Homo sapiens: one gene and its partners. The protein of the gene in region 4 purifies or fractionates together with the protein of the main gene of each other region. This does not show direct contact. Each region holds a gene or a part of one and is shown on either strand. Other genes may lie near its edges.

What was found.
Region 1: the proteins of NETO2 (region 4) and NELFCD purify together in Homo sapiens (affinity purification with mass spectrometry; one large-scale study listed by BioGRID and IntAct). This does not show direct contact.
Region 2: the proteins of NETO2 (region 4) and TIA1 purify together in Homo sapiens (affinity purification with mass spectrometry, with the first as the bait; one large-scale study listed by BioGRID). This does not show direct contact.
Region 3: the proteins of NETO2 (region 4) and WDHD1 purify together in Homo sapiens (affinity purification with mass spectrometry; one large-scale study listed by BioGRID and IntAct). This does not show direct contact.
Region 5: the proteins of NETO2 (region 4) and KRT17 purify together in Homo sapiens (affinity purification with mass spectrometry; one large-scale study listed by BioGRID and IntAct). This does not show direct contact.
Region 6: the proteins of NETO2 (region 4) and TMEM168 purify together in Homo sapiens (affinity purification with mass spectrometry; one large-scale study listed by BioGRID and IntAct). This does not show direct contact.
Region 7: the proteins of NETO2 (region 4) and HS6ST2 purify together in Homo sapiens (affinity purification with mass spectrometry; one large-scale study listed by BioGRID and IntAct). This does not show direct contact.

What each region holds. Positions count from the first base shown.
Region 1 is NC_000020.11:58,991,256-58,993,434, reverse strand, and holds part of NELFCD (negative elongation factor C/D), read right to left. Parts: intron 2,124-2,179; coding exon 1,989-2,123; intron 1,555-1,988; coding exon 1,415-1,554; intron 438-1,414; coding exon 323-437; intron 1-322. UniProt on the Homo sapiens protein: Essential component of the NELF complex, a complex that negatively regulates the elongation of transcription by RNA polymerase II.
Region 2 is NC_000002.12:70,224,629-70,228,128, reverse strand, and holds part of TIA1 (cytotoxic granule associated RNA binding protein TIA1), read left to right. Parts: exon of another isoform or gene 1-306; coding exon 307-394; exon of another isoform or gene 395-2,735; coding exon of another isoform or gene 2,736-2,772; exon of another isoform or gene 2,773-3,401; coding exon of another isoform or gene 3,402-3,499; coding exon 3,500-3,500. UniProt on the Homo sapiens protein: RNA-binding protein involved in the regulation of alternative pre-RNA splicing and mRNA translation by binding to uridine-rich (U-rich) RNA sequences.
Region 3 is NC_000014.9:54,943,600-54,947,099, forward strand, and holds part of WDHD1 (WD repeat and HMG-box DNA-binding protein 1), read right to left. Parts: intron 872-3,500; coding exon 733-871; intron 1-732. UniProt on the Homo sapiens protein: Core replisome component that acts as a replication initiation factor. Binds directly to the CMG complex and functions as a hub to recruit additional proteins to the replication fork.
Region 4 is NC_000016.10:47,137,446-47,140,945, forward strand, and holds part of NETO2 (neuropilin and tolloid-like protein 2 isoform 1 precursor), read right to left. Parts: intron 1-3,500. UniProt on the Homo sapiens protein: Accessory subunit of neuronal kainate-sensitive glutamate receptors, GRIK2 and GRIK3.
Region 5 is NC_000017.11:41,621,776-41,625,897, forward strand, and holds the start of KRT17 (keratin, type I cytoskeletal 17), read right to left. Parts: upstream 2,801-4,122; 5' UTR 2,735-2,800; coding exon 2,303-2,734; intron 1,258-2,302; coding exon 1,175-1,257; intron 737-1,174; coding exon 580-736; intron 1-579. UniProt on the Homo sapiens protein: Type I keratin involved in the formation and maintenance of various skin appendages, specifically in determining shape and orientation of hair. Required for the correct growth of hair follicles, in particular for the persistence of the anagen (growth) state.
Region 6 is NC_000007.14:112,766,394-112,769,893, forward strand, and holds part of TMEM168 (transmembrane protein 168), read right to left. Parts: intron 1,352-3,500; coding exon 804-1,351; 3' UTR 1-803. UniProt on the Homo sapiens protein: Plays a key role in maintaining the cardiac electrical stability by modulating cell surface expression of SCN5A. May play a role in the modulation of anxiety behavior by regulating GABAergic neuronal system in the nucleus accumbens.
Region 7 is NC_000023.11:132,707,130-132,710,629, forward strand, and holds part of HS6ST2 (heparan-sulfate 6-O-sulfotransferase 2), read right to left. Parts: intron 1,366-3,500; coding exon 1,333-1,365; intron 1-1,332. UniProt on the Homo sapiens protein: 6-O-sulfation enzyme which catalyzes the transfer of sulfate from 3'-phosphoadenosine 5'-phosphosulfate (PAPS) to position 6 of the N-sulfoglucosamine residue (GlcNS) of heparan sulfate.

The DNA of each region.
Region 1 (2,179 bases), on a different chromosome or scaffold from region 4:
GAGGGAGCTTCGCTGAGCAGTGTGGTCACGCTCAGCACACAGAGAAACTGGGCACTGTCACAGCCACCAAAGAGCTTATCACTGTGGAAGAAGGTCCTGACACCTAAGCCAGGGCCATCAGCTTCCAGTAACACTTGACTGAGGTTAAGAAATTTCTGCAGTCAATGAAGCTAGGTCCTTAAGAGGAAAATCCTCAGGACAGAAATAACTATTTTTGAGAAGAGTATCCTCTAAACTCACTGAATAGATGCAATGTTAATGCCAACGTAAACAGCATGAGACAGACACTGTGTAGGCTGTGAACAGCTCTCCGCCCTCTTACCTCATCCAGCAACGCCAGGTGGACAGGGGTATGGTCAGTCTGCAGCTGAAAGTACCTTGGTTCTGATACAGTCCAATCCACCCACTTCAGCACACCCATTGCTACCACTGGAAACCTACAGTTAAGGCAGAATGCTTCCTTTAAAAAACAATTTAAAACACAAAATATGCTAGAAAAGCATTAAAGGAAAGTTAAAAACAAACTCAAATGACTCCATCATTCACCCTTCAATACGCCCCCCAACCCTTTTTTTTTTTTTTTTTTGAGACAGGGTCTCACTCTGTCTTCCAGGCTGGAGTACAATGACACAATCATGGCTCACTGCAGCCTCCCGAGTACCTGGGACTACAGGTGAGTGCCACCATGTCTAGCTAATTTTTTGTAGAGAGAGGGTCCACCATGTTGCTCAGACTGGTCTCAAACTCCTGGGCTCAAACTATTTTCTTGCCTTGGCCTCCCAGATTGCTGGGATTCCAGGCCAGAGCCACTGTGCCTGGCGTAAGCTCTGCTTATTAGTAAATAGTGTGAATGGATCAGCAGCCACTCAACATGCGGTGCAAGAAGCAGAGTTCAATTCTCTGCTCACTTTAAACCACTTATCGAAAGGAAAAGATCATTAATGAGTGATACTCAGTGAGTTTGGTGGACTGGGTTGAAGTTTACCTTTATTTAGCAAACTCTTTCTTCATCCCTAGTATAAATTATTAGGGGAAAGACATGCCTAAGAGGACACACTATTTCTAGGACACGTCTATTTATATGATTGGCATAATCACAAATCATTTCTATGTAAGCAATACTTTGTGGGCATAACTTTACCTATAAATAGACCCTTCAAATCAATTTTTGTTAACTCTGGCTATCTTTTACTTAGCCTAATTTGTACTCAACAGACTTCTGGCAAATAAACATCTGAAAATTACTCATGCTGCTAAAGCTGTTTAAAGTTCCCTACATACTGTTTAAAAATGAAAAAATAAATAAAATGAACAAGTATCGCTGAAGCTTTTGTTATTTGAGCTTTCAATATGAAAACTCAAACGACCTCCTCCCCAAAGGACTGATTTAAGAACTGAGTTTCGTTTTGCTTACCTAATACACTGATAAAGTGTGCTCAATTCTGCCACTAGTTCAGAGGCCCCTTTGTTCTCGTTGCAACACAAATTGTGAACGGTTTCGACAGCTTTTGACGTTGACTTCAGCTCATCTTTATTGATGCTCACTCGCTTGTTCTGAAAACACACACACAAGCTGGTGAGCCTGACAGGGCAGATATCCCTGCTGTCGGGGTGTTCTGGTGTCGGCCACTTCTTGCAAAGCACTTTCCCTATTTCTACTTAAGTTGGGAGTCAATTCAGCTGTCAAACTTCACAGTCACACAGTGTACAGAAACTGAAAAGCAATGAGACTAGTGTTTGTCCATGTCTTACGGAAATCAGTTTCATTTCTTTAGTCACATTTCAATTTACGGTTTGCAGAGCATTGGAGACATTACGCACATTTTCTGGAGACGTTTAGTGCTTTCTCTACGCAGAAACACAAGAAAACACATGCCTGATACTAGGGAGGGTCAAGATTTCTTGCAGCCAAAATTCCAAAATAATATCAAAGCAGAGGAGGATATTTGTCTCCTAAAAAATCCACAAATTCCCAGAACCGATGGTACCTTCTTCCAGGTCTCAACCACGCTTGCTGCGTACGCCAAGATGTGGATGTATTTGTGCTTGTGGTCCTGGTTGATCCGAGCCCCTGGTTTAAAGAGTGACTGCATGAACAGGTCCAGGAAGGCTGGAACGCGGATCTGAGGAGAAGCATATGCCCAGTTCGGGATGGCAGGCGTGAGGGCACTGCTCACCC
Region 2 (3,500 bases), on a different chromosome or scaffold from region 4:
GAACTGAAACTTGTATGTTATTAGTTTATTTTCTTAGACCAGTGTAATAATTGACTGTAAATAGAAATATAAATGTCACTTTACAGTTAGATGTATCACAGTCGTTTCAGGAGAATTTTTCCTATATTGTTACCTTGATTCATTGTTTAAAATTGGTAGGATTTGTATAGATATAGGATAGTGTTTTATTTATACTTTATCATAAGCCATAATCATTTTAAGAATACTTTATTGGATAGATTTTAGTACTTTTTAAATTCTAAAGTTCTATTTTTCTTTTCACTTCCCCTTCCTTCCCCTTATAAGATCATTTCCATGTCTTTGTTGGTGATCTCAGCCCAGAAATTACAACTGAAGATATAAAAGCTGCTTTTGCACCATTTGGAAGAATATCGTAAGTAACAGAAGATAAATAAAATCCTTTTAATTAGAAACAATTATATGTAGACATAACTTGAAAATAATTCTGTTGTGAATTTTGTACATTAATTTTATAACTTGAATATAATGTATTACATTGTTTAGAGATCATTCAAGAAGTTAACAGCAAAAGATTGTTTTCCCATTGATGAATAAACCTTTGGTTTTCAATTATCTTAAAATCCTTTTTCAATTAGCATAGCTCTTAAGAGACAAATTTGCCATTGTACATGTTTTACTTTCTTATATAGGTATCAAGCTAGCTTGGTGACAATCTTTAGTAAAATTGTGCTGTAACTAAGGAATTTAGATCTGTTGGGTACTTCTATGATACCATGCATTTTGTGTTAATATATTTTAACAAAAAGAAACCTTAACAATTCAACTTAAAAAGCAGTTATTGAATATTATTTTCTAGATATTTACACCCTTTTAAAAAAACTGCTAACAATAATAGTGCCTTAATAATATTTTATGAAGCACTGCCTTGCTTGCACTTGTTATTAGTCATACATTTTAGGCCCTTATGAATAAATACCTTACTTGAGATAGCATTCATCATAGAAGAACTTTAAAATTTTGAAAAGCATGCCATATTAGAGTAAGAATAACAAGTTGTTTACAGTACTTTCTGTAGAGTAATTAGCTTAGAAAACTTCTTCAGGGTTTCTGCTTGCTCTGTTATTTTTCCACCTAGAAGAATAGTAAAAAGGAAGTGCTAGCTGTGGTTTGGTTTGAACAGACCAACAGCAGAGATGAGATGAGGAGACTGGAAAGTAAATGCCAGTAGTATTGGTGAATTTTAGGAGCTTTCGTTTGAAGAGTTATCGTTCCTTGATTAGGGGATGTGACCAAGGAATTACCAACTTTAAAGGTGGTCACAGAATTAGGGCTTATAAATGGACTTCTTTCAGATGACATTTTTCTTTGTGAGACCTGATCAGGAAAATAAGTACAGCTTTCATTTCTTGATTGTCCTTCTTAATAATATCTTAGAGTTTCAATAATAATTAGCTTGCTTTCGAATATCTGGACTTAGACAGTCTTAGCCTTTGGCCTCTCAAGGGCTCTAAATCTCTATGCACAATTTTGTGTTTTCATTTTGGTGTGGAAAATCTTTGTAAATTTTATCCTATTGTCAGAGTAGTCATAGAACCATAAAAGGATAAAGAAGCCTGATCTAGATCTTTGCTGCTGCTTCAGAGAATCTTTTCAGAGAGAAATAAATGAGTTGAATATTTTTCAAGACTAACATTTTCTGAAACTTTAAGAAGAAAAAATTTTCTAACATTGTGAACAGATTAAGTAGCTATTTTATTAAATGCTTTGATTTTAATTGAGGTAGTTTTTTTGAAAACACGGGAATTTTAGTTTGGAATTAGGCAAAGATTGTTTAACAGTTGGTGAGTTTAAGTTAAGTGACCTTCAGATTTTAGCAATTTCATGATTTACAAATCGTGGGTTATATTTTTTTCTCTTAAATATATTTCTGTGTCATATTTTTAGTCTGTAGATTTTCTTATGGTCCCATGATTATTGGTGTATACTTTTTTTTTCTTGGTAAGACCTTTAAGTTTTATGATTTTCAATTGAGATAATGTATAATGTTTGAGTTTTAGGCTATATAAGGAATTAGCTTTCCTGCATTTAAAGGAATCATTTGGCAGTCAGTAGCATATTTTCCTGATTTTTTGTTGTTGTTAAAGGAGATAAGTTGATAACTGTATGTTGAAGGGTTCTCATGATATTCTCTAAAAAGTGCAAATATCAGTGCTTGATTTATAGATGTGTAATAAACAGTGGTCTGTAAAAGCATGTAGTATAAAAAATATGGTATTTTCCCTTATATACAGCCTATAAACTCTTCCTATTCCTTGAGTTTAGGGTAGACTAACAAATTACAGCGTAGAAGAGAGTCAGCTACCAGATTAAATGCATGCGTACCATACAGATAATTTATTAAGTATTTTTGCATATTGAACATTGACTTACATTAATTTTCCCTTTTCACCACCACGTCTTTGTCATTTTGACCCTGAACACTTAATAAATCACTCAGATTGATCTAAAATATGCTTATGTATACTTTAATAGAAAATTACATTGCATGGCTTTCTGACTTGGGTTTTTGTTATAAAAGTGCCTGTTTTGTTCATGTGTCCTGAGAGAGCAAGCATTGTGACATACCTGACTAACTTAAAAGCAGATTGCCTGTGAAGCACAATTTGAGTCCAATTTTTTGAGGTATGGAGTTTTAGCTATCATGGCTGGGTTTTTACTCAATCTCAAATAATAGGGCTCTGGTTATTTTGCAGAGTGTCTCTGAAGAATGGACAGAATTGCCCTGGCTAACTACAAGCTACGGTTCACAGTGGATAAATGTTGGCGTGCTTTTTTACTTTCTGACTTTTTAAAATTTTGCTTTTATATCTTGTAGTTCCAATCAATTTTATATGAATGCTATTATAAAATTCAGTGTAAAATCTTTTCTTGTCTAGCTTAAAACTTGTGTGTGTCTAGTATTTTTCTTCAATGATTTAACATTTCTGAAAATGTCAAGTTCTCAAAATTTAGACAAAAAGGGGGGTATAAATTGATCTGAAAAAATTAAATAGTTTAATTAGTTTAGGGAATATACAACTTTTTCATTCTTTTGGTTTCCAGTTTTCTATTTTTTTTTAATGATTAGGTAGAATATAGTGTCAAATAAGTTATAAATTGCATGGTTAAAGAAAGCCATTCATCTAATGTCCTGTGAACTTTATAAGTGGTTAAGTAGTTCATGTGAGTAGCTGCTTTCACCATGCTTAATATTTAAAAGTTTAAAAAGTTTTTTGAAGAGAGAGGCAATTTCTGTACAATATAAATATACATATATACTTAAGTTATTGATTTGCATGTCTATAAAATTAAGCCTCATTTCCTAATACATGATAAATTTTGTAGAATAAAAGGTGAATTTGCATTAAAGGTTCACTTTAATGAAGGTGAAACATGAGAATGAGTTGTGTGTGAAATTCTTATTTGATATCCAGAGGATAGTTTGCAAACCTAAACTTCTGATTGTTTCTGATTTCAGA
Region 3 (3,500 bases), on a different chromosome or scaffold from region 4:
GTTGTCTAGGCTGGTCTCAAACTCCTGGGCTCAAGAGATCCTCCTGCCTTGGCCTCCCAAAGTGCTAGGATTACAGGCTTGAGCCAACGAACTCAGCTTGACACTTTTGATTTTTAACAAATGCATCTTTTCTTGGGGTATTCTCCTAACTTAAAACATACAGGAACTTATAGAGATTAAAACAGTAAACCGTCAAAAAATTAACCATCCAGCCTGGGCAACACAGTGAGAGGTTGTCTCTATAAAAAAAAAAAAGAGGACAATTGCTTGTGCCCAGGAGGTCGAGGTGGCAGTGAGCCATGATCACACCACGACACTCCTGCCTGGGTGAAAGAACAAGACCTGCCTCAAACAAAAACAAAACAAAAAACCCATCACCATTACATAATAATTACTACATATCCATATTACCATATATCCGCACTTACTTTCCTCTTTAAAAAGTTTGGTGGATGTATTCAATTTCCAAAAACAGAAAAAGGCTTTTCCTTTTTTTTTTAGTTGTCATGATCGTTATTATCTTTGTTGTTGTTATTATTATTATTAGAGACGATGTCTCACTATGTTGCCCAGGCTGGTCACGAACTCCTGAGCTCAAGTGATCCGCCTCGACCTCCCAATGTGCTAGGATTACAGGCATAAGACACCATACCCAGCCAAAAGGCATTTCTATAAGAATTTTTTAAATCTGGGAATTCACTAAGATCTCAATCTCGGCACAATTATCCTTACCTTTCTTTCTTCAGTTGACAATACTCTAAATCGAATCATTCCTTCTTTTATTATGTCTGCTTCATCTGAAAAGTCAGGATTGTCAGACAAAATATTACTTCTATTTTCTTCTAACCACATCTGGAACCCGGTCTTTGGCCTAAAATCACAATTATGTGAAAACATTTTATACTTAAGACAGAGTTTAAAGTGCCTCATGATTTTAAGTTAGTAATCAACCATAAGTCTCTGACATCTATTATATAAAGTAAGGAAGACACAGTTACACTTGTTAATTCATGTTACTTTTTTTTTTTTTTTTTTTTTGAGACAGAGTCTCACTCTGTCACCCAGCCTGGAGTGCAATGGCGCGATCTCAGCTCACTGCAACCTCCGCCTCCTGGGTTCAAGCGATTCTCCTGCCTCAGCCTCCCAAGTAGCTGGGATTACAGGCATGCGCCACCACACCTGGCTAATTTTTTGCATGGGGTTTCACCATGTTGGTCAGGCTGGTCTCAAACTCCTGACCTCACGTGATCTGCCCGCCTCGGCTTCCCAAACTGCTGGGATTACAGGCATAAGCCACCGTGCCTGGCCTCATATTACTTTAAACTGCCTGGAGACTGCAGGATCAATGAACTGGAAAATCCTTTGTAAGGTCAATTCAAAAGGATCACTCACGTTTGTATTTTCCAAGTGCAGCAACCATGAACTCTGTACTTTCAACTTTTTAATGAATGTTGACAGGCTCAAGGTCTCCAACCTCACTTAGCCCTTGTGGCCTACCACATGTCCTTGGTAGGCTCTTTTTCTATTTCCCCAAACCAGCTATTTGAATTCCTCACGACTTTTCTCAAGCCCCTTTGCCATCGCCTCACCCTTGCTCTCAGAGCTGACCTGCATCAGCATTAGGTGAAGCACGGACACAGCACATTTGTACATTTCATTAGATTCCACTCACAATACAAATTGTCTTTAAGTCACACAAGTGAAGGTTTAATGCAAATATTTAACATTTACTGATCACTTACTATCTACCAGGCACTACTCTAAAAGCTTTATGTATAGTACCTCATTTAAATGACAATAACACTATGAGATGGATACAGTTATTATCTCCATTCCATAAGTGAGAAAAGGGAGGCTCAGAGATGTGAAATAACCTATCCCAGGTTACACAAACAGTAAAACTCAGACCTGGGATCCAACAACCAGGCAATTTGACTCCAAAGTCTATGTTTTTTTGTAGAGATGGAGTCTAGCTCTTTCCCCTATGCTGGAGTACAGTGGCTCTGTATTGGCTTACTGCAACCTCCACCTTCCAGGTTCAAGTGATTCTCCTGCCTCAGCCTCCCAAACAGCTGGGACTACAGGTACGCGCCACCACACCCAGCTAATTTTTGTATTTTTAGTAAAGACAGGGTTTCACCATATTGGCCAGGTGGGTCTCGAACTCCTGACCTCATGATCCACTCGCCTCGGCCTCCCAAAGTGCTGGGATTACAGGCGTGAGCCACTGTGCCTGGCCCAGAGTCTCTTATGTTTAACCCAGCAGCTATACGCCCCTCACTAGGCTGAACCTAAATGAATCCTAAATAAAAAGTCTAAACTTTTTAAGGTTAAAAAAATTTTTATTAAAAAATTACTAGTATGACCATAACCATTTGCCCAATTTCTGAAAATATGCAAATTTTAAGTAATCTTAACGTAAACCGATTTCCAGAAAAATAACAGAACAAATCAAAACAAGTAAAAATCAAGGTATAACAAAGGTTCCTGAATTTCCAAAAATTAATGAAGACCCATTTTAATGAAACTTGGGGCAATGTCACAAGTCTACTTAGTGGCCTGCAATCATCTACTTCTAAACAGCTATTTTTAAAAAGAAAACCAAAATTGAACATTTCTTTCTTTGTTTTTTAAAGAGACGTGAGTCTCACTATGTTGCCTAGGCTGGCCTCAAACTTCTGGGCTTAAGCAACCCTTCTGACTCAACCTTCTGAGTGGCTAGGACTACAAGAGTGCACAGCCACCTGGCTAAAACTGGACATTTCTGATTAAGTATATCAACATCTGTGACAAAATATTAGTTTCAATAGTGGTAATTCCTTAAAATTTCAAAAGTAAGTTTTTTGTATAACCAACTGATAGTATGAAAAATTAAATTATCAATCTTCTTTGTTGTTGTTTTAAGAGAAAGGGTCTTGCTTTGTCGCCCAGGCTGGAGTGCAGTGGTATAATCAGCTCACTGCCACCTCAAATTCCTGGGCTCAAGCAATCCTCCTGCCTCAGACTCTCAAGCAGTTGGGACTACAGGCATGTGCCACCACACACACCTGGCTGATTTTAAAACTTTTGGTAGAGATGGGGTCTCCCTACATTGCCCAGGCTGGTTCCAATCTCCTGGGCTGAAGCTAACTGATCATGTTGGCCTTCCAAAGTGTTAGGCTTGGCCAGGTGTGGTGGCTCACACCTGTAACCCCAGCACTTTGGGAAGCCGAGATGGGCAAATCGCTTGAGGCCAAGAGTTTGAGACCAGCCTGGCCAACGTGGCAAACTCCATCTCTACCAAAAAATAACAAAATTAGTGGGCATGGTGGCACACACCTGTAATCCCAGCTACTCAGGAGGCTGAGGCATGAGAATTGCTTGAACCCAGAAGGTGGAGGTTGCAGTGAGCTGAGATTGCACCAGTGGACTCCAGCCTTGGTGACAGGGCAAGACTGTCTCAAAAAAAGTGTTAGGCGGGCCAGGCATGGTGGCTCACACCTGTAATCCCTGCACTTTGG
Region 4 (3,500 bases):
TGGTAGTGGCAGGAGACATGTTTGGACCAATATGGATTGGGCAGGGCAGGGGTGGGCGAAAAGGAGTTGAGTCGATTTTGGAAACGTTGAACTTGAGGTGAAGGCTCTACTATCTATTCTTATAAGGGCTCCAACAAATACTTCTTGTTTCTGAACATCTGCACTTGCCAGGGACCTTGGACCTCTTTGCTTCCATGAAAGTACATTTTCTAAAACCTGCTTTCTCCAGGAACCCTTTCCAGATTAATTTTACTTGACTGCATTCAGACTTTTCACTTCTGATCATTCAACAGCTCTCCATCTGTTTTTTAATTTTTTTGTTCTTATACTGATTTTGCACACTTCTATGTTAGCATTAGGTTTGGCATGAGTAACAGAAATACCTAAACTAACAGTTTAAAACAAGATAGAAATACATTGCTCTGTCATGCGAACAAGCTGGACATAGGGAGTCAAGCATCAGAGTGAAGGCTCTATAAATACCAGGACCTGGGTTCCTTCTGTCTCACTACCCAGCTGTGAGAGGCTCATTTCCAAGGTCACCCTATGGTCCAGTATGAGGCTGGAGTGCCAGCTATTCTATCTTCATTATAGCTCCCATGTCTGCATTCTAGTTATCAAGAATGATGACTTGATAAAGGGCATTCTCTCTTTCTTTAAAAACACTTGCCCAGGGCCAGGCGCGGTGACTCACGCCTGTAATCCCAGCACTTTGCGAGGCTGAGGTGGGCGGGTCATGAGGTCAGAAGTTCAAGACCAGCCTGAACAATATGGTGAAACCCCGTCTCTAATAAAAATACAAAAATTAGCCGGGCATGGTGGCACACGCCTGTAGTCCCAGCTACTGGGGAGGCTGAGGCAGGAGAATCGCTTGAACCTGGGAGGCAGAGGTTGTGGTGCGCCAAGATCGTGCCACTGCACTCCAGCCTGGGTGACAGAGCAAGACTCCATCTCAAACAAAACAAAACAAAAACACTTGCCCATAATCTACAATGATTTCAAAATAAAAGTTTAAACAACAAAAACAACAATTCCCCTAAGTTGCACACATCATTTTCTACTTATATCTAACTGGCTAGACTTAGTCACATGGTCACCTAAACCAACAGGAAACTGGTAAATAGTCTTCATTTTGGGGAACTGTGCGCTCAGTTAAATTCAGAGAATTACTGACAAATAGTTAAATGGACATTTCTAGACAACTGGAAGTTTCTGCCACAGTCCCTATAGTGTATTATGTACACAGCAGCCAGTGACCTTTTCAAAATACAAATCAGATCACATCACAGCCTTGCTTAAAATCTTCCAGTAGAGTCCCATTATAGTTAGAACAACTCTGTGCCCCTTACTCTGACTTCGGAGGTACTATGTGACCTGGAGCCTGCGTGTCTCTCTGGCCTTCCGAGCGCTCTCTACTAGAACACAGGCCGCCTTCCCATCACTCAAAACACATCAAGCTAATTCTTGCCTCAGGAACCAGCTGTGCCTTCGGCCTAGAATCTCTTTGGCTGATTCCTTCCTGTTGTTCAGGTCTTGTGAGGCTTTCCCAATTTCTAAATAAGCGCTACATTTTCTCCTTCATTTTGCTTTACTTCATTATTATATTACCTGGTATTTTGAGTCTTGTTGGTTGTCTGTCTCTTCTCACTAGAAAGAAGGGCCTTGTCTGTCTGATTCACTGATGCATCTCCACAGCCTAAAAGACTGTCTGGCCTCAACAGTATTCAATACAGACACGATGAACACATGGGGGTGACTGAGCGCGACTCCAGTGCATCTTCTTTGTAACCGCAAACACATAGCACAGTAACTGACAGGCACACATCTTGGATGAACAAACAGTAGCCACACATGTGACCTTGCTTTTTTAAATGCGAGCACAAATCAGGGGATGGGAAAAGAACTGAGATTCCCCCCCACCCTCCTGAGATACCCTGCCACCACTGTTATTTTCCTCAAGCTGGCTCAATTTACCTTTGTTAGTAATTAAGTGTGTCTCTTTCTACATCTTCCTGTGTTAAGCAACTCAGTGGTAAACATAAAGCTTTTAAAATCCAACACAGAGAACCACCTACCTGGTCTCTCTGCTCATTACCATTTCCTATAATGACAGCAGAACAGAGTTCAATTAGAGTCCACATACTATTTGACATGGCAGTCACTTGTTTTTGATAAACTATGTTCCAAAGAACAAAAAAAGTACCCAAATTTAATCAAACTCAATCATACTTTACTAGTTAAGAACAAAGATGGATGGTGAACTTTGGGATCACTCCAGCCTACATATGCTAATGACATGCCAATCACTTTAGTAAGAAAGAGTAACTCTATAGCAGAAGTGCTTTCTCTTTCCTGCAGAATGTGACAAACTCCTCCTTAGTCGAGCTGATCTGAGATGGCGCTTTTGTAAGCTGTATTTTAATTACACATCAGTCCTCCTGACTGTACAGTGACTACCATCACCTTCTAACATGATCAGGTCATATTTGAAAGACTACTTGGTATCTTCTAGTGCTGTAATTTCCAATGTTACTCCAGGCATATTTAAACCAACATGTCTTAATGTCATTTTGATTAGAAAGGACTGAACTTTCAGATTAGTATACCCTGTAATTTTGGAAGCAATATAACAAACCCGTTGAAGTGTCAGTTCTTGGAGCCACCCTGGTGTTTGAGGTGACTGAGAGGGCAAGGCCTCCCACCAATCACAGCAACTCTGTTCTGTTGTCCTTTTTCCTTTTTTTTTCAAGTGCTTCCTCACAAAAGTTCCTCTGAAGTTTGGAAACCATTGGATTAGACCACCTCTTAAGATGCTCCTTTCCAACTCAAAGATCATAATAATTTCAATCTCCAGTGCCTCAGGGAGACGTATTTCTAAGTATAAATAATTATTCTACAGGAGCGTAAGTTGAAAAATGATAGGAGATTGTGCTGGATGGGTGGTACCCCAAGAGAAGGAGGTAGTCTATTGTTTTAAAATTTCAGATATGAACTTTATTTCTAGTCTATCATTTTTCTATCTTTTCTAAAAAGGACTGAAAATGGCTTTGATTTCAACTTGTTTTGTCATGCAGGGTTTTTCCTAAATAGTGATTTTAATTTCAAAATGAAAGATAAACCAGATTGCAGTTGAGGATTTACTACAAAAAAACCATTATTTAATAAGACTTTTCAATTGACAGTGTTAAAACAGTTTTTCCCAACCCCTGGAAGGAAAAGCCAAAAAGTTGATTTTTAATAAGGCTTTAGTATTAAAGGACAAGTTTTTCAGTACCACACTTATTTCTGTATAACTAGTTTATAGTCCTGGGTGAAATGTAAGAATGAAAAACGAGTTAATACTTGCACCGTCTCAGACAAGATTTTTAAATACAGTGCCAAGGAATATTTTTGCTGTTACATTACAAATTTAACCAGTTTCTACAGCTTGAAATATTGCTGAGTCGAACAGATTCTCCTGAAGCAAGTGTGCAGAATAAGAACAAAAAATGGATTTATAA
Region 5 (4,122 bases), on a different chromosome or scaffold from region 4:
ATGTGCGCATCTGGACCCATCCTGACCTCTCACTCCCAAGCCTTCCCCCACAAGGGGACCCCACTTCCCACAAGGACCCCTCCTTTGTTCTCCCTCTGCTCTATCTGACCCTCTAAATGATTTTTATTCATCTGCTCAGTATTGCCTCCACCATCAGACTCTATCTCCCCCATTAGACCAAGGACTCTCCAAAATAAAATCTAATTATTAGGCCTATGCCCCCAAAAGTTCCCCTCTAATTTCCAAGCTTCTATGTAGATGTTCAGCTTTGAGAGTTTGAAATGGGACAAGATTTCCTTACTTATCCCCCACCCTCATGAGGGAGGCAGGGTAGGTAGAGGGAGCCTCTGCAGGCCCCTGGGAGGTTCCTTGTGTACAGAGAAGCAGTGTGGTACAAAGAGGAGTCTGCCCTGCACACTGGACCCCAAGGATCAGGGCTCTGCAGACAGGGAAGCCCTCTAAGGTGACTAATCCCGGTGCACCTGCTCTGCTCTCTCCCACGGCCTCAGCCATTGCCCAGCCCCAGGGCTCTGCCACCCACTCCTCAGCATCTTTGACCTTCTGCCCCAGCCACCTCACCTCCTCGTGGTTCTTCTTCAGGTAGGCCAGCTCCTCCTTGAGGTTCTCAATCTGCATCTCCAGGTCGGCTCTGGCCAGGGTCAGCTCATCCAGCACCCTGCGCAGGCCATTGATGTCGGCCTCCACACTCAGGCGCAGGGCCTGCTCTGTCTCAAACCTGCCGTGGGAATCAGAGACTTCAGCCCAGGCTGCTTGGACCTGCAGATCCAGGTCCTGGCTGCTCACCTGCCTTCATTTTGCCAGGACTCTAAGGAGTTGGAAGGGCTGATGAGAGGGTCGAGTGGAAACGAATTCCAGCCCCGGGACCCCGGGACCATCACAGGGCCAGATCCCACGCCCACCAGCTTCCTTACTTCTCTCTGCCTCCCGCCTCCCGCCTCCCCTCCTTCTCTTCTATTCCCTGCCTAAGCTCAGCAACCTTCAGAACTGGCTGCCTTCACTGCATCCTGGACTAAGGAGTGGGGCTCCTAGGACTGCCCCACCCTGAGCTCCTGGGCCTTGCCACAAGCAACCAAGGAATCCTGGGGTCAGGAGGGGTACCCTGAGATCCTCCGCCAGCTGGCCCAGGCTGCCCAAGGCCACAGCTAGGACTCACTTGGTGCGGAAGTCATCAGCAGCCAGACGGGCATTGTCAATCTGTAGCAGGATGTTGGCATTGTCCACGGTGGCTGTGAGGATCTGAGGAGAAGGGAGAGTAGTCAGGTCATTGGATGGGGGTGGCTGAGCCCACACCAGGGTTCTGAGCAGATCTTCCTGCCTCAGGGCCTCTCTTCTCGCCCAGCCCCTCCCTTGCCCCGTGCTGTATTATTGGCAGAGGAGGGGCAAACAGGAGTCTGAAGGGCTGAAAGGTGCCTCTTCTTCCCCCGATACTCAGTACCCCACCAGACCCCCATGGCAGGCTCGGCCTTAAAGGAGAAGAGACAGCTGGCTGGGAGTATGAGGCAACCAGAAAAGAATGGGAAAATGTCCCCAGGGCAGAAGCTGTCCCAGAATTCTAGAACAAGGGAGGGGATGTGGGCAACCCCCTCGTTTTACAGTCAGCTAGAGGGTGCCCCTGACAGGCTCCCCCAAAAGGAGGCTAAAGGAGCCCTCATTAAAGAGTGGTTCCAAATCAAAAGTCAGGACCCCTCCTAATCCCTAACCCTGGGCGCCAGCCAGCAGCCCCGCCCCCTGGGGTTTGCTGAGCCCGTCTTAAGGGACAGCAGGAGGAAAGGAGAAGCCAGAAAAATCCCCAAATAAGGCACATCAGAGGCCTTCCCCACACTGAGGTCCCGCCCCCTCCTTTCTGCCTCCTCCTGCAGCAGGTGCTATCAGGAGCTCACTCAGACACCCCCACTCCACATCACCCAAAACCCCCTCCTGTTGACCCCTGCTCCAAAGGAGCAAGACACCACACATCCAGCAGCCCACGGGCCCAGCCCTCCATCTGCATCCTCCTGCCTCATCCTACAACCTCTCCAGGTGGCGGAGCTCCACGAGGGAGAAACTGAGGCTCCAAGGGGCTCCACAAGGCCTCTTTGTTCCTGACTCAGCTTGCTGTCCCCAGAAAAGGGGGATGTGAGCCACACAGGGGCCCCAAGGCAGGTTCCCAGAAGCTAAGCCACAGCCAAACCACCCTTGGCTCCCTGAGACCCTATGGCTGGACTCCAGGCCTTTGGCCAAGGCAGGAGTTGGGGGGAAGAAGTCATGCCCCCCGGAGACCCCTCCCACCAGCAGGCCCTACCTTGTTCTGCAGCTCCTCAATTGTCCTGTAGTACTGGCTGTAGTCACGGGCGGGCCCCGGGGCCTGCCTCTGGTACCAGTCACGGATCTTCACCTCCAGCTCAGTGTTGGCCTCCTCCAGGGCACGCACCTTGTCCAGGTAGGAGGCCAGGCGGTCATTGAGGTTCTGCATGGTGGCCTTCTCACCTCCAGCCAGCAGCCCATCAACACCCCCAAAGCTGCTGCCATAGCCACCACCAGAGCCAAAGCTGTAGCAGCTGGAGTAGCTGCTACCCCCGAGGGTGCTGCCCAGGCCGCCAGCAGATCCCAGCCTGCAGGAGCCGGCACCCAGGCCGCCAGACAGCCGGCAGGAGGTGCGGGACGAGCCGCCCCCCAGGCCGGAGGAGCCCTTGATGGAGCTGGAGGAGGTGAACTGGCGGATGGAGGTGGTCATGGTGGCGGCGGCAGGAGGCAGGCACACAGGAGAAGGGCTGGAGAGGAGAGGGGCCCCAAGTTGTGTAGGGCTGCCGGGGTTCGCCCGCTTCCTTTATAGGCCACCAAGTGGGCGTAGCGATTACAACAGGCTTGCTCCTCTGTTTCCATTCCCCTGGGCTTTCATCACCACTGGCCACCTGCCAGCTCCCAGGTGGCTGGGGGCCCCCTCCCCGCCCATCATCAGGAATTTGCCTCATTTCTCCAAATCCTCGTGCTGAGTGCCGTGCGTGTGCGTGCCTCTGGTCTCAGGCCCGTCACCTGTGATTCAGGCGGGCCCTCCAGCTATGCTTTCCCATGACCTAATACGGAGAAGAGGAGAAGGCAGGACGTCACCGTCCCCAGGCCCTCCCAGGCAGCCACCACCCCAGCCTGGCCCGCCTCAACCCTGTCTGGTGGGGAAATGGGTTGCAGTGTCAGCTGACCCCCCCGCCAAAGTTGCTGTCTTTCACCCCACACTGCTCCACCCACGGTGCTGGCCCCGGGGCTGGGTGCTGAAGAGAAAGAGGAGACCGAGAGCCTATCCTGCCTTGGAAACTGAGCCCAAACCCACCAGGCCCACCTCACAGCATAGAAATGCCATCAAGCCTCGGAGACCAACCCACATCACAGATAAAGAAATTGGGGCTCCAGAGGGGTGCCGTGTCCACACTGGCCCCTTCTGCAGAGCCTGACACCCAGGAATGCACTCTAGGGGCTACAGTTCCATCCAGTCAGCTTCTGACCCTGCCCCATCCCTAGAAATCCTTGCTAACCCAGTCTCTTCGTGTAAACCTTTCCCCAGGTTTACACTCCAGGCTGGGGTGGGCAAACAGGGGCTCAGCTATAGGATGGGGAAATGGTGGGCTGTGCCAACTGAGAGGGGGATGCCCCCTTCCACTCCCCTCACCCTTCTGTACCCCAAGAGACCTCAGGGTCAGGTGACGGGTATTTATCTCAGGTCTCAGCCCACAGGAAACCTAAAGGACATTGCCCAAGAAGAGGCTCTTACAGAGACCCCAGCCAGCCCCCTTCCCACTCCAGGCTCCCCAAGATGTGGCTCCTCAGGTGGGCCATGTGCCCCACCCCACAGCCCCACCCTGCCCTGCCCACCACCCCAAGCCCGGCCCTGGGTCCCAGGGTCCCGCCAGGCCCGCTGGGTGGAATGTGGTCATGTTTCAGACTGCCGATGGCTTCCACTTCCCAGACAGGCCCAGACGGCCCCGCCAGCAGCCGAGAGACATTCCTCAATAGCCCAGTGGCTGCCAAGCCACCAAAGCAAACAGGATGCCCCCTACGCGTACACGCACAGCGGCCACCCCGCCCCACACACACCCCGAGCTGGGGCAGAGCCGGTCTGGTTTCCTGGGC
Region 6 (3,500 bases), on a different chromosome or scaffold from region 4:
ATGAGAGTACTTTTCAAAAAGGAAGACAATTTATTGGAAGAATTTGTAGCTGGAAACACTGTTCATTAAGAAAACATTAAGTTACCCTGAGAAAGACTCTTAATATTACCAGTGTTTTCAGGGCCCCCTGACCAACGCATGGAAGAGCAACTTGTAGGCTCTAGCCTTTTAACAATACCTACATAAAGAATATTTTGATCTAAAATGTAACTTGGGTTCTCTGCCACACTGGTAATAAGTCACAACCAAGACATCTGAATGTGATGGAGTATAAGCAAATTTTGCGTTTATTTTAGGCTGCCCTCTTTCTTTTCTAAGAGAAAGAGTTTGCAGTTCTTCAAATGGTCTTGGATGAAACCTACTGTTTGGAAAAAAGAATCTTCTGTAAGTAAACTGGTAGTTTTCTTAAAACAGTAAACAAATTTATCTGGTCTACATTCTCTAAACTATTATTATATGCCTAGAAAATAAGGCATTAGTAATTCATCATTGACCATTGCAGAGCATAGACAACTGTTTCTTTCTAATCAGGACCATAAGCAAACATTCCTGAAAGTGCAGTGTTATTTTTAACGTCTCTTATGCATTTACAGTAAGCATTTGACTCCCTACATACTTTCATTATAAAATGTTTTTTCCCAACGCCTTATATATACCATAATTACTTAAGAAAAGACAAAGTGAGAGCAGCTACAGAAGTAGCAAGGTATTTTCCACAAATAAAAATACAGCATACAAAAAATGGCAAGTTAGTGATAATTGGTAGTATGAGTGCTTATTAATATCCCGCTTTGGGGTCCAAATTAAGATTTGACAAGTTTGAAGCCTTGTCCTGTGTCCAGCACAGTAGGAAGAAACCAACTCATTTTTAATCTTTTCAAGCACCTAAAACAAGTTTTGCAGATCCAAAAAAGGTTCAGACCGCATAACCAATTTGCCAAATGCACTAGGGGATATGTAATACGAGGAAAGTGTAACATCCAGTGCTTGGCCACATCGCTTCCCGTTGGCAAATGCAGAGTGTAGTCACTCCACCGTTTTGACACACCATATACTGCTTTCACTGTGCGTCCCTTTTCAGTCCAGCAGATGTTATTACTGGAGTTGCAGTTATATTCTACCCAGTCTTTTGTAAAGTCACCTAGCTGTGGCGGGTCAGCTTCTTCAATATCTACTGTTTTTATCAACTCTGCTCCTTGCACTGCAATATACTGGTCATTAATTTTCCTCACTTCTTTCACCCAAGGGGTTGAATTTTCGCTGTCTAATACGATAATAAGCCGGGAACAAAAGGAACCATTCTTTTCTCTCCACCATTCTATAAGTGTGTCAAGGCGTAGTGTATCTCCACCTGTGAACAAGAGAAAATTCAATGGAGCAATAATTTCTGCAGCCTCTCATTAAGAAAACCCTCTTAATCATTTTCTTCTAGAGAGAAAATACTCTTGTTATACATGTATTTTCCTTAAGTTCTTAGAATTAAATAAGCAAAAAAATAAAGTATTTAAATGACACTTTCAAAGTATCTTTTGAAAAGATATTTTTTACAACAGATTTTCAACTTGAGGTAAAAAAAATCCTTATTACTCACATAAAAAGGAATCTGCTAGTATAAAATTAAGGAAATAGTTTTACACAGTTGTATTTAGTGAAAACAACTATACAGAAAAGCTAACATTCTACACCAGGGGCAGCAACTACAACTCATGGGCCAGATCCAGCCTGCCACCTCTTTTTGTATGGCCTGAAAGCTAAGAATTGATTTTATATTTTCACATGGTTGAAAGAAAATCAGAATATTTTGTGATAGTAAAAACTGTATGCAATTTGTTTCATATAATTATTTTCATAAATAAGTTTATTGGAACACAACTACATTCATTCATTTATACCGTCTATGGCTGCTATTGCTCTAAAGTAGCAGAGCTGAATAGCTGCAACAGGCATCTAAACCCACAAAGCCAAAAATATCTGGCCCTTTACAGAAAAAGTTTGCCTCCCCATTCTGTATCATTGTTTCCTTCTCTTCCTCATATGTAGGTACCTATTGAATGAAAATAAACCCTGTTCCTACCTGTACAAGAATGAGTTTAAGAACAGATTTACATTTAAATCAGTTTTATAGCTGAAGAACAAGGGATTAAAAAAATATATATACCCAGAAAGTTCTAAAGTAAATAAACTTCTGACTACAGGTTTTACATCTCGTTATTTTTTTGCATTAATTTTGATTTTTAAGTATACTACATTAAAATATTCATTTTGATTATTGAGTTTTTTGGCATTCCCTTATGTTTTGTGCCTGAGGCAACTGCCACCCTCACCTCATCTGGCCCTGTCTCAATGGTACACTGATAACGATCATTCCAATTCTACGAATCTATCTTAAGGAAAGAACAGACATAGGGACAAAAAATTACAAAAAAAGACGACCTTCCCATTTGGGAAATGGAAATGAACTATGGCCTAAAACCTTAGGAGGAAATCTTATAACAAAATATTTATAAAGAAAATTTATTGATGAGAAAATGTCTATATTAGAAAAAGCATGACAGTACATCTACAAAAATTATAACAGCAGCTATTGCTGGGTGTTTCACTTCCATGTGGTTTTTAAAATATTTTTCTGACAGTTTTACATTGAGCATAAGTTACTTTTACAATTTACCAGCACAAGACCCAACATTTTCCCCAAATCAACTGTCCTCTTGGTTTCACCATTAAAAATGGACACCACCAGAGAGAGAATCCTTTAGAATTGGGATTCTATCATATTCTTTATGTGTCATTTATTAATGTTTTATTAATCAGTAAGCTTAAGAACCTGAAAATAAACTTTTTTTATTAATCGCTCTAACACTCACACATATTATCTCAGAGACACTATTTCAGTACATTGTCTCCACATATTACTAATGTGTTATTCCACTGATACCTCCAAAAGATACTTTTTCAAAAATGGCCAAATGTTAACTCTCCATTATTGTCAGCTCTATTAAATTTCTCTAGAGATCAGAAGATGACACAGATTACAAGAACTATTATGTAAATTCCATCTGCCACAAAACATCATTGCCCAACATGCCATCCACAACTATTTCAATAAACATTCTTGAGCATATTCTACCCTAATTCTCTTATATAAATGCTCTTTAGATATCAACGAGACCTAAAGCAGCATTAAAGCTTTCTAAACAATTTCTCTTGTTTTGCTCTGCTTTCTCCTATGAATAGGTTCTATGCTACATTTGGCTTTTGGCCCAGATTCAAAGTACTTACATTTATCTAAGCTAATATCCATCTGATGCATTTTAAGTAATTGAGACTGCTTTTTAAAGGTTTTATTTGTAATAAACTGCTTTATAAATTATCTACATTTTTTCCATTTATTTCTGTCTCTCCTGTAATTACCATAATTGTTTTCTATCCTCAAGCAGAGGCAAAAATATTAGGTTCCATATCATGAAACTCCATAAATATAAGAAGACTACATATTCTAA
Region 7 (3,500 bases), on a different chromosome or scaffold from region 4:
CTATTATAGGGATAGTGGTACCTATGTTATTGACCATTGTCTTAATGGTCATCCGCTCCATTTTATTTTACAGGCGAGGAAATTAAGGCTCAGAGTGGAGCTAGTGCTTGACAAAAGTCACCTCATTAGTAACAGAACTTGGTACTTTGCCTCCATGACACACCCAATCTATGATATTTAAATGTTCTCCCATACTAATACTGTGTGATTAGGTGTCTATGTGTGTCTGTGCCATTTAGCTCAATAAATTATAATCTGACTACAAAATTAAACACTAAATTTACTATTCTCAGCTGTCAAGTAAATCCATTGAGGCTCTAATGGGAGTATGGAAGCCCAGCTACAGAAAGCTAAACTGGGCATCCCCAAAATGGCTCAAGTAGTCTATTTTAATGGGAGTCTGTCCTTGTGGAGAAATGCCAGAGCTACAGTCTTTGCTCTTGCTAACCTATTTGGCCAGGGAGCACAGGGTGGATTGTAGGTGGGTATTAAGAAAAAACAGAGGCACTAGTAAATATTTCTGGAGCCAATAAGCCTACAAAAAGCCAAAGACAGTACTGGTGAGCATCATGACCTTAGAAAACAATGTGCCAAGCGACTAGAGCACACATTTCCAAAATGACTTATGGTTCTTGCTAGACTCTCCGGTTCTGGTGGCAATATGATGGTACAGCTCTTAGCAACAGTTGTTGCCTGCAGGGGCATCATCTGGGAGCATTCTCAGCGTCCGTCTTCCCCACAGAGAGGAACTTTCTTGTATTTGATTAGATTTGCTCTCCTGCAGGCTTCATGTCAAAAAGGCCTCTGGCCTATGGGATTACTTGTAAATATGCAAGTCTACGTATTTACATACGTTAAAAGCCCTGATATTTTCAAATAATTGATTTCCCTTCAAGGAAATGCTGACCTACTTGTTCTCTAAATCACAATCCAGCCTAGGGACAGGCAGACGTGCCTGAAGCACTGTAAAGAACACTTTGCCAACGGTTGGGGTCTTCTCAACAACACACTCTACTGTGTCATCCTATTTCAGCAAAAAGAGGAAAAAGAGCTAATGACCTACTGCACACCTGTCTGGGGTGGTCGCCCTGAACATTCATCCCCCTTCTGAACTAAGTCAGCCTTCAGAACTGAGACTCCAAGCCTGGGTAGTTTCAGCTGTTTTAAACTAAAAAAAAAAAAAAAAAAAAAAAAAAAAAGCCCTGGAAAGAATTTGTCCAAGCCAAAAACTTAACTATTTGTTGTACTGAAATTAAACGGACAGGCAACTGCAGAGTCTCTTTTTTCTAGCTTACTTGGGTTCAGTCAAACTAAAAATACATTGTTACTTACCTTGCTGCATCTAGAATCTGAAAAATCCTCCACCTGTTAAAGGAACAGTAAAACCAGTCGCTAGCAAGAGCTTGGTAGGAGAGGAGATAAAATAATAAAAGTTTTCCATTGTGCTTTAAGAGCATATTTCTCCAGCTTCCCAAACCTTAGGGAAACAGCTCATAGATGGCTTCTCCACTTTGTTCCCCACTGGCTCCTCTCAAGTAATGGGGAGATTCCCAATCAGAAGGCTAAAAGGGGCAAGGCTGCACTGAGAGCCAGATCCCTGGAGTGCTGTGGTCTGGGAATGATGGATCTACCACTCACTCATGCTAATTCCATTCCCCTTCACAGAGAGCAATGGGAATCTAGGTAAAAAAACAAAAGCCAATAAAACAAAACCCAAACCAAACCCAACCCTGTGGCATCACTGAAATGGAAATGACTGATTGAAAGGTCCTAGGAGGAATTGGCAGGGATTTTTCATATTATCAGGAATATACGAAACACAAATAACAAAAGGAAAATAAAGAACAATTAAACTTTACTGATGCTCTTTAAAAAGATGAAAATTCAAAGCACACATAAGGTGATATATAAATCATCTCTCTAGTCCCTTCCACCCAAACACAAGACATCCATCAAAGTAAGCAATGTCTCCCCATTCAAAAAACATGCTCAGCTGTTTTTATAATGTATGTCTTAAGGGTCACAAAACACTCATTCCACTGTGTGAATTACTGATATTATTAGCAGGCGGAGACTGTGAAGTTATACACAGGTCAGTTGCTAATTTGAGGGTTCAAATGGGCTCAGTTAGCCTTTTGTTTTTTATTATGCCAGAACAAGGAATTTTACAATGTAGCAACACTTCTTTTATGCCCGAAGTGGGCTATATAGCCTGTGCATTTTCTTGGGAGAAATGTTTCTTTACAGCAAATACGCTTTGCAGGCCTTAGAAGTGAGTTAAGAGAGCCTTTTTTAATAGCATGGCTAGCAGCAGAGCCTTTGAATCATCATTTGAGAAGCAATACATGGCTCTTTTATTATCAGTCTCTGGTGCGGTTAAGCCCCCTTTCCCTGTTTCTGAGCTGTTAAGACTGCTGGGGAAGCAAATGTCATGAGAAACAAAAGCGATATACTTGGTGAGGCCTAACATCAAATCTGTTAGACAAGACACTCCTATTAGTGGACTTACCATCCAGAGCCCAATGTGCTCGTCTTCTACTCCAGCCGCAAGAAATAAGTAATCTACAATGTACTGACCTACCCCATGATTTAGAGTCCCTACACAGTGAAGAGAGGCTATGATCCCTTCCACAAAATTTGGCCTTGTGAACAAAAACAACACAACTTTGGGTGAAAAGACAAAACACACACACACACACACACACACACACAAGAAAATATTTTTAGAAGGAAAACATAAAGCCATATATTGATTCCTAGGATCAGAAAATTCCAAAGTTAAGTATGCAGCAGTTTCCAAAGCCATAATTTTTATTTCACTGTACTAACAGAAATTCTCAAATGATGTTAAGTGTATAAATAATTGATTTATATGGGAACGGGATCAAATTTAACTTTAATCACTATTATTGTCTCTTGAGTTTTTTTATTTCTAGGTAAACTTCTTGACTGCCTTATAAAATTTGCCTGGTGATTGCACTGAGAAGACTTTTGGAAGCTCATTGCCTTACCTGGGAGCCCAGGTGGGAAGAGGTGGAGTATTGAGTGACGATCCATGAAGACGTTACAGGTGCATCAATCAAAAGGGTGGCCAGTCATCAGAAGTGAGCCAAAGTTCATAGGGAAAAGGTAAAACAAAAGATACATACTAATTAGAAGAGAATGAATTAATTTTAAGAACCCATTTTATGCATACACACACACACTCTCTTTGGGAAGGTTGTTTAATGAAATCCTTTAAAAAGGCCCTTTAATCATGATGTTTTATTAAAAAATATTTATTATCTATTATGTGCTAGCCATTGTTAGAGGTACTGAGGTTAGAGGTACTGAGTAGTGAATAAAACAGACAAAAATCCCTGACTCTACAGAGTTTACAATCTTGTGGAATATTTTTAGGCCATCTGCTTGGAAAAGAGTTCTACAGAAATATACTGTATATTATCAATTCTAGGAAAGAGTTTCTCCCTGTTTTATTTATGCCTTTGTTTATGTATGGA